2 separate regions of the Homo sapiens genome follow, and region 2 is linked to region 1. Evidence: fine-mapped expression QTL. A gene starts in region 1. The other region holds a variant in brackets. All regions are shown on one strand. Distances are between the middles of the regions. Region 1 holds the start of RBM18 (RNA binding motif protein 18). Region 2 overlaps RBM18 (RNA binding motif protein 18).

Evidence for each region.
Region 2: its variant is fine-mapped to the expression of RBM18 in whole blood (INTERVAL, PIP 0.97).

Annotation. Positions count from the first base shown.
Region 1 is chr9:122,263,642-122,266,559 of GRCh38, reverse strand. RBM18 (RNA binding motif protein 18) reads left to right here and starts at 1,720. Exons shown (of 6, transcript NM_033117.4): 1 at 1,720-1,845. MRRF (mitochondrial ribosome recycling factor) reads right to left here and starts at 1,678. Exons shown (of 7, transcript NM_138777.5): 1 at 1,622-1,678. RefSeq lists enhancers at 1,261-1,420, 596-1,566, 989-2,188, 1,567-2,538.
Region 2 is chr9:122,235,825-122,238,742 of GRCh38, reverse strand. RBM18 (RNA binding motif protein 18) reads left to right here. Exons shown (of 6, transcript NM_033117.4): 6 at 1-1,121. Among named protein-coding and RNA genes, the nearest start is that of LHX6, 8.3 kb to the right of the region's middle. RefSeq lists a silencer at 1,207-1,407. The variant C/A (reference allele first, on the strand shown) is at 1,360.

The sequences.
Region 1 (2,918 bases):
CTGGTTCTCATAACTAAAGAGTGATAATCACCACCCGTATTTTGCAAAATAAGAAAAGTGATCTTTCACTTCTCCAGGGCTCCCCCTGCTCCAGGGTCTTCAAACATGCCATTGAATCTCCTTGATGATCTTCCCTCACCTCTTTAACTGTTTGTCTCCGTTTTTATTTCAGATTTCAGCTTAACCATCACTTCCTCAGAGGACGGCTTCCTTGGCCATCTCCTACAGCCCAACTAGGTCAAGTGTCCTGTAGTCTGCTTTCATAGCACCCTTTACTTCATCATAGCACTTAATTCTTAACAATACAAGCTAACATTTGTGTAATTATTTGATTGTCTAATTCCCTCCATATGACTCTAAGTACTACAAGGACTAATCTATGATTTTCTTGTTCACTGCTGTATCCCCAGTACCTGGTACATTGCCAGAACACAGAAGACACTGTGAATGTGATGAATACATCAGTGAAAGTCCAGAAAGATAAATTCCTTATCCAGGGTAAACCAGAATCGGATGGGAATCTACCCTTACTATTATGGTAGGTTCTGGGCTTCCCAGCGTTGCCTCCACTGTCTCTGGTTTGCCAGATTTTTGCTTAGAGATAGTAGATGATGTTCTTCTCTAAATGCAGTACCAGGTAAAGAAAGGTACTTGTAGTATCTGACTATACACAGAATCATTATGCACCTGGCACGGCCAAAGAAGGAATGAGACACTTTAACAGGTAGAGAAAGGGCTTTTGCCTAAGAGTTAAGAGATCTGGATTCCAGTATGCCTACCTTATCACTCCCTGCCATCTGCCATTTAGATTCATAATCACACGTATTCAAAAAGCATTTGCGGCAGCTCTACCACTGACTTGTGACTTGTACCAAGTGATTTCTCCTACGTAGATTTTGTTTCAACCATAAAATGAAGGGGTCAGATCAGGTTTTCATTCTTTCCAACTATAAAGCTTTCCAAAATGGGGGGAAATGCAACAGTGTGGTTTAAAACAAAATAAAGGCACTAAACTTAGAGAAAACTCCGAGTCTTGGTTCCAGCACTTCCTAGGCACGTGACCTTAAATCGGTCAAACTCTCAGGACTTCCGTCTCATCTGTAAAACGTAAATGACAATACTATTTGTCAGGGTTAAGTAAATGGAGAAGGGCTACTGAAATGACAACTGTTTTGCCACTGGGTGGCACAGAGTGGTGGTTAAAAGTCCAGGCTTAGGAGTCGGATAGCCCTAGGTCTGAATTTAAGCGCCCTCACTTTCTGACCGCGTGACCCTGGTAAAATTACCTATGTGAGCTTCCGTTTCTTCATTATGGGAGATAATAATATCTACTCCTATGGGATTGTTCTGAAACTCAAACGTTCCCGTCAAGTGTGCGGCTACTCTTTAGTAAGTTCCTCCAGCATCCCCTAAATTCCTAGCTGGTAAAAGGAGCCCCGCCCCCACCCCATGAGACTCGCTCCAATGCCACAGGTCCCGCCCTCAGCCTTAAAGGTCAAGCTGGACTCGAACGGGTCGGGGACGGTAGTCTGGTCCCCTGAGGTCCCCCAGAGGTCCCTGAGTAAGGGTCTCTGGCACCCAGACCACACGCGCCCCTCGAGGCCCTGTCAAGGACACTCACCAGCTATCGCCCAGGTTACTAAGGAAAGACTCGTGCGACGGCGGCGACCGCAGCTGCGCGGACGTCGTGACGTCACGAAGCCAGGAGGCGGCGCAGGCTTAACGCGTCACGGGCGGCCTGGCAGCTGGCGGCATTGAGGCGGACGCGTCTAGAGGTCCGTCTGACCGCGGCGTCGGGACCTGGTTTCCGGGCATGAGCTGAGAGCACCACGCCGAGGCCACGAGGTGAGTTCGGCCGCGACATGTCCCTGCACCTCAGCGATGGGCCCGCTAAGAGGTCTTACAGGAGGCCGCCCTCGCAGGACTGCATCTCAGGCCCCGCCCCGGATTGTCCTGTCGCTGGCCCGGAAATAACAATCCGAGTAATGACCCTTCGCCTGTAGGAATTCGCAGCCAGAAATCGGGAAGCCAGGGTTCCAGGCATGACCCCACCGCTTGCTGTTAGGATCAGGTGTCTCTTCTTCTCTGGATTGCACTTTCCCCAGATGACTATTTCTGGCTTCCAGAGTTATTGCAGCTCAGCTGGAAAGACAAATGTAACCGCGTTTTGTGAACTCTGGTAGTCTAAAGGATTGTTGCTATTGCAAACGCAAAGCATTTTGATAGTCCCGTGCCGTCTTGATCTTTTATTACCCTTTACCTTTCCTCAAAAAGCCATATTCTGAGCTGTCACCAAAATTGTCTTATTTAAGACTCACAACGACCTCGTGAGACGACAAATTGTACCCATTCTAGGAAGGAAAAAGAAACTAAGTCTTCGAGTGGAGAAGCGGCTTGCTTCATTTAGTAAATATTAAGCACCAACCGTGAGACAGGCAGTGTACTTAAGTGCTAGAAATAGAACCGTGATCAAGATTGGCAAGGTCCTGTGCTGTGGGAGCTTACGTTCTAGTGAAGGAAATAGAAGAGGAAACATTAAGTAATACATTGAATTAGCATTTAGTAGGAGGAAAAAGATGGAAAAGTGGCTATGATATAGAATAACAAGGAACTCTGTTTAGGAAAGCTTTTCTATCGAGAGGATGCTTAAAGAAAGGTCATGTGACTTGCTAAAGGTGCAGTTACTAGGTGCAAAAGTCAGGATTTGAACCCAGACCCGCATAGCCTGCACTCTTACCAGTAAAACATGGTACCTTTTCGTGGTAATAAATATTAATAGCTATTGGTATTATTCCTGATTTTAGACATGAGAAAATCAGAATGTCCTATCATTCAAGTCCCAAATGTCATCTCCTTTAGAGAGGCCTTCCCTCCACTCAATCTATAGTCGTCGAGTCCCTGTCACATCACCCTGCTTA
Region 2 (2,918 bases), 28 kb after region 1:
TATTTTAAAATGTGATTCTCTTCTTTGTGGCTTTCCATCACAGCCTAGAAAAAATTGAAAGATCTGTAAGGCCCTAATGACCTGTCCTTCACTACGTGTCTGACCCTATAGCCTACTGTTCTCCCCTTGTGCGGTGTACTGCAGCCACGTTGGCCTTCTTGCTATTCTTTGAATACAAGGGAGCTTCTACTTCAAGGCATTTACATTGGCTGTTGCCTTAGCTTAGAACGCTCTTTCTCCAGATAGCCGCAGAGCCCGCTCTCTCACCTGACTCATGTCTCTGCTCAAATGTTAATGATCAAGAGGCAGTCCCCGGCCTCCCTCTTAAAATTACAACCTGTCACTCTCCAATCCTTTCCTCACGATTTTCTCAAAAGCACTTACCGCTAACCAACATTATATCTAAATTTTTTTTTGTCTCTTTTTATTGGAATGTAAGTTTCATGTAAGCAGGAACTGTATATCACTGCTATACCCTCAGCATTTAAAACAATGGCTGTACATCATACATACTCAATAAATATTTGTTGGATAAACTACAAGAATTCTGGTATTTGAGAGCCAAAGGGCCTTAAGAGACCATCTCATATAGCCCCCTCATTGTCCAGATGGGGAAAACGGGAACCCAGAGAGACAAAGCGATTTGGCCAGGGTCACCTGGTTAATGGGAGAGCTTTAGGTAGAACCCAGGCCTGCAAACATCTAGTCCAGTGTTCAGCAAACTGGCCTCTGCCTCCTAATTTTGTATAGCCTACAAGTTAAGAATGATTTTTTTTTCATTTTCGAGTGGTTGAGAAAAAAAGTAAACAAAATATATATACTATATTGTGACATGAAAATGATACGAAATTCAAATCTCAGTGTATGTTAATAACTATTAGAACACAACCATGCCCAGGCATTTACATGTGGCTGTTTTCCCCATATAATAGAAGAGTTGAATAGTTGGCAATGAAGACTGTGGCCTACAAAACCTGAAATATATACTATCGGTCCCTTTACAGGAAAAATTTGCCAAACCCTACTCTAAACAATATTCCATGACTGGAAATGTGTTTTCTAAAATTCTCGTATTAATGCAGAGAATAAAAGCAACAGATGTCAGAATGATGTGCACCGAATATTGTTTCTTAGTCAATGTCTCTGACCCCTTACACATCTTTTGGGATAGAGAACTGGCTGTGCCAGCCCTAGTGGCATCACTGTACTGCTTAAGGCTATCAATGTGGGCTAAATCCTCTCATTGTCCCTGTGAGGAAACTAAGGCCGTAAGAACTTGGGCTTCAGATTTAGACTTGTAGCCCCAGCTATGTAAGCAGATTTGTCAGGACTCCCAGCTCAAGTGACAAAAACACTACT[C/A]CAACTCCCTTGCGGTAGAACATGTATTGGTTCATGTAACTGAGAAGTCCAGGTGTTCAGTGAAATGGTTAGGATTCTGTCTATCTCTTGATTGTGTTTTCCTCTGGGTTGGTTTCATTCTCAAGCAGGCTCTTCCTTGTGGTCTCTGGAGAGACCTCTTGAATCCCAGGTTAAAAAGAAAAAAACAAAAACCCAAAAAAAACAGATCTGTCAGAATTTATCCGAGTACGCAGGTCTGTGTCTTCTTTCCTCTGCATTCAATCTTAAACTTGGCTAAGATTACTGATTATGCTGAATGACATTTAATTTTTACATGCCCTGTGACTTTTCTAAACTAGAAGCATAATTTTAAATTTTCACCTTAAAAAACAAGTTATGTGTTCCTCTTCTGAAAACAGGCCTATCCCATTTGAGAAGCTTTCTGGTGGGCGACCTCATCAGAAGGAAGGTTACTCATTCCTGAAACAGATGGCATTTGCCATGTGTGATGCGTGGAGGGTGTAAAGATGATGAGGCAGGAGCCCTGTGCACTGTGATGTACCGTGATAAAGGGACGACTCAGCAGCTTCAAGACACCAGAGGATGGGAACCAGGCTGGGAATGGGACATGGTGACATAGGTGATTTCCCCCCGAGCTGAGCGGCCAAACGATGTTTAATAAGCTGCGTAAACGGTTTAAGGGGGACGTTGAACAAAGAACAAAGCCCCAAAGTGAGAGATATTAAGATTTAATCTAAGTAAGGAGTTAAGATACTTCCAAATACCTAGAACCATAGGATAAGCCAGGTTTATGAGGCCTTCTACAAATCAGTCCCACTAGGCATTCTCCTAACCAGACTAAACTATTTGTGCACCCTAAACATGATGGACTCTCCTGGATTCCCCTGTCCTTGTACAAGATGTGCCTTCTACCTGGGAAGTCCCTTCTGCCCACCCCCACCACTTGTCTAACAGATATTTTCCCACCCATGCTCATTCCTATAAGGCAGTTAATTGCCTTTCTGCGTCTTAACGACCTGGGTCTGTTTTAGCACTTATCACTACATATAATGTGCTTTATAATTTAAAAAACGATTCTCACCAAAAGTAAGATGAGTTTCAGGGGCAAATTACCTCCCAGAAAGCAAACAAGCCAACTCTCTTCTCATAGATGGGGTAAATTCCAGCTGCTGTAAAATCTCCACTTCCAAGGCTTCCGCTGCTATCCCTACCCTGATATCTCTGAAATTCCTTCTCTTAGATCCAGGCTCTCTTCTGAGCTGCAGAGCCATATGTCCCGTTCACTCCTGGGCACTTCCACTTGAATATTCCCTTGGTACATTGACTCAAAACCGAGCTCATGGATCCCTCTTGCCCTTCCTCAATTGCTCCCATGTTCTGTGTCACTGGGAAAAATAAAATAAACTATTAGAAACCTGAGAGTTATCTTGAACATTTTCCACTCCCCCACTCCCTATATCCAGTCTCCTAAATGTTATATAGCTGATGATATCATATATGATACATTTGTATGTATTTATACCATATATACTACATATATATGATTCTATATATAACCT